2 linked regions of the Homo sapiens genome follow. The protein of the gene in region 2 interacts with the protein of the main gene of each other region in a biochemical or structural test. Each region holds a gene or a part of one and is shown on either strand. Other genes may lie near its edges. The genes, in order: RGS4 and KCMF1.

Region 1 (5,235 bases), on a different chromosome or scaffold from region 2:
GATAGATATTATCAAATACAGGGAGCAGCAACTATACAGTCCCAGTGAGAGTCTGACACATCTATAGTATAAGAGAAGAATGATAGTTTTGAGGGGAGATTCTGAGAGTTTCCCCTCAAAGCACACAAAATTTAGATTCCTCTCTGAATTTTTTTCTTAAAAGATGGTTCGGTCCATAGTTTTTACCAGATCCGTAAATGGATCTATTTCTCAAAAGTGTTGAAGATCATCTATCCTTAACACCTTGTAACTACTACTCTTACAATGGGAAAGAAGGGTCAGGAAATGGGAGTCTCATGACATAATAGACACAGCACAGGGCCTATTACTGAGGATGTGAACATTTTATGACCTCTTTTCCAGGAAAGAGAATTAACAAAAGGGAGGGAAGGATTTTTGAAGTTTGGGTAAGAATCTATAGCTCCTTTCAACTCTCTCAATTTCCCACTGCTCTATCATCTCTCAAACAGGCGGGTAACTGGAAATAAAAGAATGGCTCTGGAAGGTGAACTCTATCCCTTGAAAATTGATTGAGAATCTGCAAGCAAATCACTTAATCTGTTTTGCAGTCTCTGAAGCTAAGATTGCCTTGGTTCTATGAGTAGAGCCAAGCAGAGCAGTGGCATGAACTAAAGAATAAACAATATTCAGTTTGTACTTTCTTTCCCAGAGTTCACTGGCACAGGAGGGATTAAAGACTCAGTATGAGTATTTTTCTAAAGTCACCCTACACCCTGATGTTTCTCATAGCATGTCTCTGGATCATTAATGTGTTTCCAAGCAAATAGTTTCATATGGAGCGTTTATTTACCCTTATTATTAAGATGCGTGTGTTTCACTGGAAGCATTAGCTTTGAGGCCTATCAAGCACATGATAGAAACAGGCATGCAAAAGGAAGGAGTATTCTGTCCAGGGAGCATGAGCAGGCAAGCTCACCATTGGAAATAGTGATGAAATAACAGGGAAATACAACTGAAAAACACACTCAAAAATGTATTACATAAAATAATTTACTTCTCATTCAGCGTGACCTTCCAGACCTATTAGTAAGACAGCAGTCTGTGAGTTCAGATACAATCTGAAAGTCATGACAATTATAATAGGGCAAGACCAATAAAGTTACACATTTGAAGTCAACTAGAGACAAAATTGTGGAACTGTGTATAACAGAAAATGACACTGATGAGGAACTCCAGGGATATTAAGGGCAAGATTGCCAGAGAGACAAGAAGGGTACAATTAGAAAACCTGCATCTTTAATACAGTGAGATTTGTATGCATACACTCTGGTGTCTTCATTTTGCAGCCCATTATATTGGCTTAAAAGCCAGAAAGGTGCTCATGCATGTAATTTATACTGGAGCAACGAATGCAGTGTATGTGGACGCGTGTGTGTGCACTTTGAAAGGCAGTAGTTTTAGAAGAATGAGAAGAAAATTACTTCCTGGGCATTCATTAATAATTCAGGTGATATCCTGTACCTCCATTTATAAAACAATATAATAATAATAACACGTACAAAATAACATCATAAATAACATAAATGAGAAGTTTTCAAGTATTTCAATGTGCCTTGAAAAGTTTCAAACAGTAATTCTCACAATTGGTTAGACAATCATTTTTTTTTTCTTTTCTTTTCCTCTCATTTAGTCTCAGAGCCTAAAAAGAAATGCCTCCAGTCTCTGTTAGCCCCGATGTTTGGAATGAAATTAACAAGATTCTACCTTAAAAGAGAAAACTTATGTGGGCTTTTCAAATTGTGAAAATTTGTTCCCTCTTATAAAATATAATCTTTCCCCTGCTGCTGGTTTATAAATATAGGCATATAGCCCAGAGCCATTATAAAGAAAAAACAACCAACCACAATAAACTAAGGAGCCTCATCTGATGGCTAAGGTTCTCAGGAAAAAATGAGAAGAGCACCTTGATCAGGAAAGGAAAAAAGGATAGAGGATAAAAACAGTAACCTTTAACTTCTATGCCCTCACTCAGCCAGTAACTTACGGCAGGTGTTGCTGGCAAGGCCTTAGCTGTATTTCTTCATTAAGTTGAACATCCTGTCTGCCAACTCCATACCAACCCAGCTGCTAATAAGCATGCCCTGAGCACCCAGGAAAAGAAGGGAAGGCTGGCAGCTTAGGAGCTCAAAAGTGCCATCAGAGAAAACCAGCTCAAGGGAGCTAAGGTATTTGCTCCTTAGAATAGTGCTCAAGGTGGAGGCTGTCAGTGGTCAAATCAAGCATGAAGTTCCTTGGATGCTTCTCCAGCAAGATCCATGGAATTTTACAAAACCAACTTTCCACAGGTTAGCATTTCTTTCTTAGCCTACATGGCAGTTAGTTCATTTTGCCCTGTTCAAATGTAGTATGAAAGAACAGAGATCAAAACACCCATGTAAGTACATACACATACTCTAGTTATGAGCACCTAGGGTCTTTCCCATCACTCTTGCAAAAGTGTGTGTGTGTGTGTGTGTGTGTGTGTATACATACACTCACACATACATATGTATACACAGACATCTATATACAGAAATAATGTATATGTGTGTCTAATGTATATATAATATATACACATAGACATACACACAAGCACATATCATAGCTCAACCTCATCTAAACATCTAGAGTCTGGAGAACGTGCTGGCCAACAGAATACATGTGCATGTGGATGTCATGTGACATGCACTAACCAACCATCCCGAGGTAAAACTGTTGGGAGGAGGAAACTGCCAACAATCTTTGAAAATCCAGACCTACCAGGCCATTATTTAGATATTTGCTCCCATGGAACCCTCAAAGAAACTTAGGAAAATTGGACTGGAATGGGGTCCCACCCTGATGAACACTCAAACACCAAAAGCTATATCTAGTTTATGCGTAGAAGTGACTCACACATGGCAGGCAGCATGAATATTAGGCTACAATGTGGATAAAGCACTGGAGCTTAATACAGATCAATATTTGGCCTCAGGTTTTCCAGAGCATAGAGTCTTGGCATTTCATCCCTCTGCCTTCAGGTGAGAATTAGGCACACTGAGGGACCAGGGAAGCACAGTCTGCTGAACTCTTGGCTCCTTTCTGCTTTTCTGCCCCACAGCTGGACGGGTTGACCAAATCAAGATAGAATCGAGACTTGAGGAAGCGGCGGTAGGAATCCTTCTCCATCAGGTTGAAAATCTTCTTCTGGGCCTCATCAAAGCAGGTTATTGTAGGCTCTAGCATGTTCCGGCTTGTCTCTTCCCTGGTGCAAGAATCCAGGTTCACCTGAGGGGCAAAGGCCAAGGCTTCATTAGACCTATATCCCTGTTGAGGATGCAAGCCTGTATGCTTTGTAGTGACTTGTAAGTGGCAGTGCACCCTCTGTATTTCAGAAGCAAAAAACAAAAGTGACATTGGGGTCCTCCTTGGCACATGTGAGAGAGTATGAAAGGTTCAGAATGAACCTTTCTGCTTTAGAGAGAGCAGGGCAAGATCTTCTGTTCTGTCTAACAAATTGGGGAGATTCATCAGAAAAATTCATGCAGGGAGGTTATGGTAAGCCACATGGATAAAAGAGATTTTTTAAAAAACTGATTTATTTGGGGTTGTCAAGATTATGATAGTCAGCTCCACTATTCTAGGAACCTTCACTAAGATCCAGAGAGTTCTCTGCCATAAAAGCTTACCTTTTTGGTCAGGTTGGCTAATGGGTAGAAGGAATAGATAGAAAGTTGGGTAGAGGGAATAGGTTCTAGTGTTTGATAGCACATTAGGGTGATATAGTTATCAATAGTTTATTGTATATTTTAAGATAGCTAGAAGAGGAGATTTGGAATGTTCTCAACACGTAGAAATAATAAATGTTTGAGATATGTATATAGCAATTGCCCTGATTTGATTGTTATCACATTGTATGCATGTATCAAAATATCACACATACTCCATAAATACGTACAATTTTTATGTATCCATAAAAAACCTACCTCTTTGGTTGCCTGGACTGAGATGAATTCATTATAGATCTTTTTGGCCTTGGGACTTAGTTTAGATGGTGATTTGATTTTCTTGTACTCTTCACAGCTGATCCAGAAGTCAATATTCTCCTCACTATATTCAGACTTCAAGAAAGCTTTGAAAGCTGCCAGCCCACCTATGATACAGGAGAAAGGACCACAGTTGTCATCACACTGGTTGGCCTCTTGGATATGCTATTTCACATAAAGCTGAGGTACTTGGGGGATAAAGCATGGATTCAAGCAATCCCTTTTTCCCCTGCTTTTTTCAAGTCACCTGGAGTCAGGTAACCCTAATCTGTGTTTGATATCCAGTGGTTCCCAGTTCTACCTAATGATTCTTACTCAAGTTGGAAGCCTCTTTCAAGGAAGTATTTTGCTTCTGAAATGCCTATGCAGCTATCAATTACCAAGGTCAATTTGGGAAAGAGAAACTGAGATTGATTTTGCAAGAAGGTATTGATATTTATCATTTTTTTTCTCTCTTCCGTTTTTCCTTGTGATGAGAGAGATGGTTTTCCACATGGTTCCTGCATAAACTTTTCATTGTATATCACAAAGCTCTAGGGCATATTAAAATTTTAAACAGACTGAATTTAAGACCTAAAGAGTCTCCTGAGTCTGAACATCAGAAAGAAGCCAGGCCTTGCTGCAGTTTCTATTAGACCAGCATAATATAACTTGTCTTATCCAGAGTACCTCATCCCAGGTTGCTGTCAGACTTACATTCATGACTAATCAGGTTTTCCAGTGATTCAGCCCATTTCTTGACTTCCTCTTGGCTCACTCTAGAAAAAATAGAGAGAAACAGAATAATTGGAATGCCATGGTAAAAAAATTGGGGCAAGAAATCTAAGATCCTGAATGAAGGCAAAGATTTTATTTTCCATCGTTATGACAAAATATGTTATTGATGAGGGCAGTTTTTCACTAAATGTATAGAAATTTCAAATGTAGTTATGATCTCCATGAAAATGGAGGCTATCTTGATCCAAATCTGGCTTAACTAGGAGCACAAGTTCCTTCTCACAGAACATCCCCATCATCAGATAGTTAATACTAAGTACATCTTCACCAAGGCCTTTTCTCTTACCTCTGGCAAATAACCACTTTGTCCTTCTTGTTGTGGGAAGAATTGTGTTCACAGGAATCAGATTTTTGCAGCAGGAAACCTAGCCGATGTTTCATATCTTTTGCACTGCACAGAAGAGAAAAAAATGAATAAATAGTAATAACCAGC
Region 2 (7,293 bases):
GTTGCCCAGGCTAGAGTGCGGTGGCTGATCTCAGCTCACTGCAAGCTCCGCCTCCTGGGTTCACGCCATTCTCCTGCCTCAGTCTCCCCAGAAGCTGGAACTACAGGCGGCCGCCATCACGCCTGGCTAATTTTTTGTATTTTTAGTAGAGACGGGGTTTCACTGTGTTAGCCAGGATGGTCTCGATCTCCTGACCTCATGAGCCGCCCGCCTCGGCCTCCCAAAGTGCTGGGATTACAGGCGTGAGCCACCGCGCCCGGCCAATACTGTATGTATTCTTTGAAATTTCCTTTCACTCATCTGAGGCAGATGTTCTTACCGTTGCTGTGATTCATTCTTTTTCCAATTCATTCTGTGCATATTGAACTGTTGAGCCTTTGAATCTGAATAGCCTTTTTTTTTTTTTTTTTGAGACGGAGTCTCGCACTTTCTCGCCCAGGCTGGAGTGCAGTGGCGCGATCTCAGCTCACTGCAAGCTCCGCCTCCTGGGTTCACGCCATTCTCCTGCCTCAGCTTCCTGAGTAGCTGGGACTACAGGCGCCCGCCACCACGCCTGGCTAATTTTTTTTTGTATTTTTAGTAGAGACGGGGTTTCACCGTGTTAGCCAGGATGGTGTCGATCTACTGACCTTGTGATCCGCCCGCCTCGGTCTCCCAAAGTGCTGGGATTACAGGCGTGAGCCACCGCGCCCAGCCCCTGAGTAGCCTTTTTAAAATTCAGTTACAAAAACTGCCGTCAACATTCTTCCACATTCTCTAGGTGCACACAGACAAAAGATTCCCTCCCCGGGAATTTATTTAAGAGTGAAATTACGGTATCATAGGAGGTATATGTGTTTAACTTGACTAAAAATATGAACAAATTTTTCAAAGTGGTTGTGCTGATTTACACTCCTACCAGCAGGGTATAAGCACTTCTGCTGCCCTTTATCTTCACTAACACTTGATATCATGAAACTTGTAGTTTCTTACCGGTTTGGTAAATGTAAAATGCTAGCTCACGGATGTTAATCATGCACTTCTTTGATGACTAATGAGATTGAGCATCTTTTCATATGTTTACTGGCCATTTATGTTTGTTGTTCTTTGAGTGCCCTTTGACAGGTTTCTCCATTTTTCTACTAAGCATTCATCATTTACTTACTGATATGTAAGAGTTCATAATGCATTCTGAATACCAAACTTTTGTCTGTCATGTATGTTGTACATATCGCCAGTTTCTGAACCTTATATTTTCAATCAATGTAGGCTGTGAAAAGACGAAGAAAAAGGCCGAGCGTGGTGGCTCACGCCTGTTGTAATTCCAGCACTTTGGGAGGCCCAGGCGGGCAGATCACCCGGAGTTCGAGACCAGCCTGGCCAACGTGGTGAAACCCCGTCTCTACTAAAAATACAAAAATTAGCTGGGCATGGTGCCAGGCGCCTATGATCCCAACTCCTTGGGAGGCTGAGGCAGGAGAATTGCTTGAACCCAGGAGGCGGAGGTTGCAGTGAGCCAAGATCTCACCATTGCACTCCAGCCCCGGCGACAGAGTGAGACTCTATCTCAAAAGAATAAAACAAAAACAAAAGATGAAGAAAAAGTCTTAACGTAGTTGGACTTATCTCTTACTTTTTGATTTGGAGAGTGAGAGAGAGAGAGAGAGAGAGAGAGAGAGAGTGTGTGTGTGTGTGTGTGTGTGCGCGTGTGTGTGTGAGAAAGAGAAAGATTTAAGAAATTGTTTTCTACTTTAGACTCATAAAAATATTCTATATTGTCTTCTAGAGATATTTTTCATTGTTCTTTTGAATCCGTCTTTAAACCATGTGGAATTGATTTTTTGTGTGTATAGGATATGGGGAGAGATCCAATTCTGTTTTCCCCACATGCAGATAATCACCTGTTCAGCACCATTTATTGTCCATTCCCTTTTTTTCTCAGTGCTCTTTAGTGACCTTGCTGTTGTAAAACAGATTTCAACATCTGTTTCTGGTCTTTCCGTTCTATTCCATGGGCCAGTTTGTCTCTACCCTGGTGCCATTCCATCTTACTGTAGTTATTATAGGTTTATTATTTGTTATGGTGTTACTTATTATTTATTAGTTTAGCTCTTGATATATAAAACAAGTCCCTCTATCTCATTTTTCTTGGGAGCATCTTGACTCTCCTTGGCCCTTTTTGTAACTTGCATCAACATTTGAGTCAGCTTACCATGCCCCACAAAAAAATTCTTTTTAAATTTTGGTTATTAATTGTATTGAATCCACAAATCTGTTGACATTTTATTATGAACCTTCCAGTCCATGAAGTTGGTATTTATATTTTTTAAAGTCCTTTAGTGTCTTTGAATACATTTTTACTAATTTGCTTCATAAAGGGCTGCCTATCTTTGGTTAGATTTATTCATAGGCACTTTTTTAAAATGCTGTTGCAAATGGCTTATTTTTTTATTGCAGTAAAATATACATAGCATAAAATTTATTTTAACCCCTTTTAGGTGTACAGTTCAGTAGCATTAAGTATATTCACATTCTTGGAACCATCACCACTGTCCATCTCCAGAATTCTTCCATTATCCCAAACTTGAAAACTCTCTACCCACTAAACCGTAACTCCCCGTTCTCCCTTTCCTCAAGCTTCTGGCAACCACTGTTCTACTTTCCTTCTCTTTGAATTTGGCACATCTCGATGGAATCACAAATGACATTTTTTTGGTTTTTTGAGATAGGAGTCCCGCTCTGTCACCCAGGCTGGAGTGCAGTGGCGCAACCTCAGCTTACTGCAACCTCTGCCTCCTGGGTTCAAGTGATTCTCTTCCCTCAGCCACCCGAGTAGCTGAGATTACAGGCACACACCACCATGCCTCACTAATTTTTTTGTAATAAATGACATATTTTTAATAATATGTTTTTCTGTCTGTTTTGCAGTGAAGAAATACAATCAGTACTTTATTTAGGAGGTCTCTATCTAACAGCTTTGCTTACTGCTTCTAATAACTTAGCTGTATTTGGGTTTTCAGCATAAACAAGCAGATCACATGTGAATAAAACTATGAAACCCACCTACAGAATTTTAAATTTTAACTTTTTTAAAAATATTTTTTAAAGACAGAGTCTCACTCTGTCGCCTAGGCTGGAGTGCAGTGGCATGATCTCGGCTCACTGCAACCTCCGTCTCCTGAGTTCAAGCCATTCTTCTGCTTCAGCCTCCCAAGTAGCTGAGATTACAGGCGCCCACCACCACGCCCGGCTAATTTTTGTATGTTTAGTAGAGATGGGGTTTCACCAGGTTGGTCAGGGTGGTCTTGAACTCCTGACCTCAGGTGATCCGCCCACCTCAGTCTCCCAAAGTGCTGAGATTACAGGCGTGAGCCACTGCGCCTGGCATATTTTAACTTTTTTTTTTTTAAACAAATACAAATGAGATCTCTCTATGTTGCCTTGGCTGGTCTTGAACTCCTGGCCTCAAGCAGCCCTCTTGTCTTAGCCTCCCAAAGTGTTGGAATTACAGGTGTGAGCTATGGCACCCAGCCCTGTTCAAGCTTCTTTCTTTCCTTTATTATTATTATTATTATTATTATTATTATTATTATTTTTATTTTTTCCAGACAGGGTCTTGTTCTGTTCCCAAGCTGGAGTGCAGTAGTTTGATCATGGTCACTGCAGCTTCGAGCTCCTGGGCTCAAGCATTCCTCCCACCTCAACCTTCCAAGTAGCTAAGGCTACAGGCACAGGCCACAATGCCCAGCTAATTTTTAAATTTTTTTGTAGACAGGATCTCTCTATGTTGCCCAGGCTGGTCTTGAACTCCTGGCCTCAAGCCATCCCCCTGCCTCGCCTTGCCAAAGTGCTTGGGATTATAGGTGTTAGCCACCACACCCAGTTATTTCTTTTAACAGGTCAAGAATTATTTGATGCCCCAATTCTGATATGAACTCATGACTGATTCTGCTGCTCCTGCTAGTTCTTTCTGATGGTGCTTTGTTTTTTTGTGTGTATTTTATGGTTTAAATTATGAACTTATTCTTTGGATGTTTATATATGCCAGATGCTTGGTATCAATTCTAATTTAAGACCACTTAAAATTCTTGACCCAAGGTCTTTGGAACCATTTGATAGAATTTGGGCTATAAACCCATGAGGACTGGTTTGTGGTTATGGCTTTTTGTGTTATTTTGTGCCCCTAGGGCAGGGGGCTTTCACTGGGGTAATTTTTGTAATCCCCTAGGGAGGATTTCTAGCCTACCCATGCATTGAGAGTATATTAGGGTCTTGGTTTTATGAGGAATCTTCTGTTAATTATCCCACCTTCACTAGGCCTTTGTCCAATAATGCTGTGGACCTTAAGCTTAGATTTTTACCTGCTTGGGCAAATACCCTCATGGTGAAAAGCCTTCTTTAGTGCTTCCAGTCACCAGTTCCTCTTCGTCTTGGTTTTTACCTTCTTGCTGGCTTATCAAGGCTTTTTTTTTTTTTTTTTTTTTTTTTTTTGAGACAAAGCCTCACTCTGTTGTGAGGCTGGAGTGCAGTGGCGCGATCTCAGCTCACTGCAACCCTACCTCCTGGGTTTAAGCAATTCTCATGCCTCAGCCTCCCAAGTAGTTGGGATTACAGGTGCCAGCCACCACGCCCAGCTAATTTTTGCATTTTTAGTAGAGACGGGGTTTCAACATGTTGACCAGGCTGGTCTTGGACTACTGACCTCAAGTGATCCACCCGCCTCGACCCCCGCAAAGTGCTCAGATTACAGGCGTGAGCCACTGCACCCAGCCTGTATCAGTCATTTTAAATTATTTTCATGTGGAGTATAAATCAGAGTAATGAATCCAGCACATGGCTAAAACTTCCCGTATCATTTTACTAAGTCATTTCTAGTCATTTTGGAAAGGACATATGAGGTTAAATGAGCACCTGAAACATTCATAAAAATGAAATCAAGAGTGGCCTTTACAACTGGTAACTAAAGATATTTCTTTTTTTTATAGGTGTCAGCTGTGATGCATGTTTAAAAGGAAATTTTCGAGGTCGCAGATATAAGTGTTTAATTTGCTACGATTACGATCTTTGTGCATCTTGTTATGAAAGTGGTGCAACAACAACAAGGCATACAACTGACCACCCAATGCAGTGCATATTAACAAGGGTAGATTTTGGTAAGTAATTAAAAATTTAATGAATTACATCATTTAGAATTTTATGTACGTTGAAGAAGTAAAGGCAAAGTGTTCTAAAACTCCCCAGCAGCATACCATAAGCCCCAAATTCATTAAACATGAAATAAATCTTACTTTTTTTTGAGACGGAGTTTCGCTCTTGTTGCCCAGGCTGGAGTGCAATGGCGCGATCTTGGCTCACTGCAACCTCCACCTCCCTGGTTCAAGCAATTCCCCTGCCTCAGCCACCCGAGTAGCTGGGATTACAGGTGCACACCACCACGCCTGGCTAATTTTTTTGTATTTTTAGTAGAGACAGGGTTTCACCACGTTGGCCAGACTGGTCTCGAACTCCTGACCTCAGTCAATCTGCCCGACTCAGCCGCCCAAAGTGCTGGGATTATAGGCGTGAGCCACTGTGCCTGGCTTTTTTTTTTTTTTTTTTTTTTTTTTTGAGGAGTCTTACCCTGTCGCCTAGGCTGGAGTGCAATGTCGTGATCTCAGCTCGCTGCAACCTCCACCCCCCAGGTTCAAGCGATTCTCCTGCCTCAGCCTCCCAAGGAGCTGGGATTACAGGCGTGCACCACCATGCCCGGCTGATTTTTTGTATCTTTAGTAGAGATAGGGTTTCACCATGTTAACCAGGCTGGTCTTGAACTCCTAACCTAATGATACACCTGCCTCGGCCTCCAAAGTGCTGGGATTACAGGCGTAAGCCACCGCGCCCGGCCTTACTTTTTACGTACTAAGTAATTCTGTCTGTTCATCTTAATCATAGTTTACTTGTTTAAAAAAACCATTCAGAAATATACACAACTGACAAGGAATGAAATAGAAGAGTGCTTCAGTAAAGAAGAAATATGCTCTGTCTTTTGTTCGTGCTATTAACACACAAATAATAGCTTTATTTTATTTTATTTTTTATTTTTTTAAGACAGAGTCTCACTCTGTCGCCCACGCTGGAATGCAGTGGCCGGATTTCGGCTCACTGCAACATCTGCCTCCTGGCTTCAAGCAATTCTCGTGCCTCAGCCTCTTGAGTAGCTGAGACTACAGGTGTGTGCCACCTTGCCCAGCTAATTTTTTTGTATTTTTAGTAGAGATGAAGTTTCACTATGTTGGCCAGGCTGGTCTTGACCTCAAGTTATCCACCTGCCTTCGCCTCCCAAAGTGCTGGGATTACAGACGTGAGCCACCATGCCCAGCAATAATAGCTTTTGTAGTGACCAGAAAACAGATTGTTGGCTGGTTATGGTGGCTAACGCCTGTAATCCCAGCCCTTTGGGAGGCTTAAGATGGTCAGATCACTTGAGCCCAGGAGTTTGAGATGAGCCTGGGCAACATGGCAAAAACCCTGTCTCTGCATCCACCCCCGAAAAATACAATAAATTAGCTGGATGTGGTGGCGCACATGCATCTGTAGCCCTAGCTACTTGGGAGGCTGAGATGGGAGGATCACTTGAGCCCAGGAGGTCAAGTGTGCAGTGAACCCTGATTGTGCCACTACATTCCGGCCTGGCCAACAAAGCAAGACGCTATCTCAAAAAAAAAAAAAGGCAGATTGTTTCTACAGTTGATTAGAAGACATTGTAAGAAAATATATAAATGTTTCATGCTATAATTTTTTTTTTTTTTTTTTTTGAGACAAGAGTTTCACTCTTGTCGCCTAGGCTGGAGTGCAATGGCGCCATCTCAGCTCACTGCAACCTCCACCTCCTGGGTTCAAGCGATTCTCCTGCCTCAGCCTCCTGAATAGCTGGGATTACAGGTGCCCGCCACCATGCCCAGAAAATTTTTTTTGTATTTTTAATAGAGACAGGGTTTCACCATGTTGGCCAGGCTGGTCTTGAACTCCTAATCTTAGGTGATCCACTTGCGGGCCTCCCAGAGTGCTGAGATTACAGACATGAGCCACCACGCCTGGCTTCGTGCTATAATTTCTTACCTAGCCCACACTTTTTGTCCTTTTTATTTCAGCCATCCTAGTAGGTGTAAAGTAGTATCTCAGGTGGTTTTGATTTATATTTCTCTGAAATATAAATTATGTTGAGCATCTTTTCTTGTGCTTATGGGCCATTTGTATATCTACTTTGAAGAAATACCTTGATCCTTTGCCCATTTTTTAATTGGATAATGTGTCTTTGTTATTGAATTGTAATAG

What was found.
Region 1: the proteins of KCMF1 (region 2) and RGS4 interact in a test that uses a peptide from one of them, tested with the Homo sapiens proteins (one study listed by BioGRID).

What each region holds. Positions count from the first base shown.
Region 1 is NC_000001.11:163,072,353-163,077,587, reverse strand, and holds the end of RGS4 (regulator of G-protein signaling 4), read right to left. Parts: intron 5,194-5,235; coding exon 5,089-5,193; intron 4,784-5,088; coding exon 4,722-4,783; intron 4,591-4,721; exon of another isoform or gene 4,311-4,590; intron 4,211-4,310; exon of another isoform or gene 4,133-4,210; coding exon 3,966-4,132; intron 3,268-3,965; coding exon 3,028-3,267; 3' UTR 786-3,027; downstream 1-785. UniProt on the Homo sapiens protein: Inhibits signal transduction by increasing the GTPase activity of G protein alpha subunits thereby driving them into their inactive GDP-bound form. Activity on G(z)-alpha is inhibited by phosphorylation of the G-protein.
Region 2 is NC_000002.12:85,022,925-85,030,217, forward strand, and holds part of KCMF1 (E3 ubiquitin-protein ligase KCMF1), read left to right. Parts: intron 1-4,964; coding exon 4,965-5,132; intron 5,133-7,293. UniProt on the Homo sapiens protein: E3 ubiquitin-protein ligase which accepts ubiquitin from an E2 ubiquitin-conjugating enzyme and then transfers it to targeted substrates, promoting their degradation by the proteasome.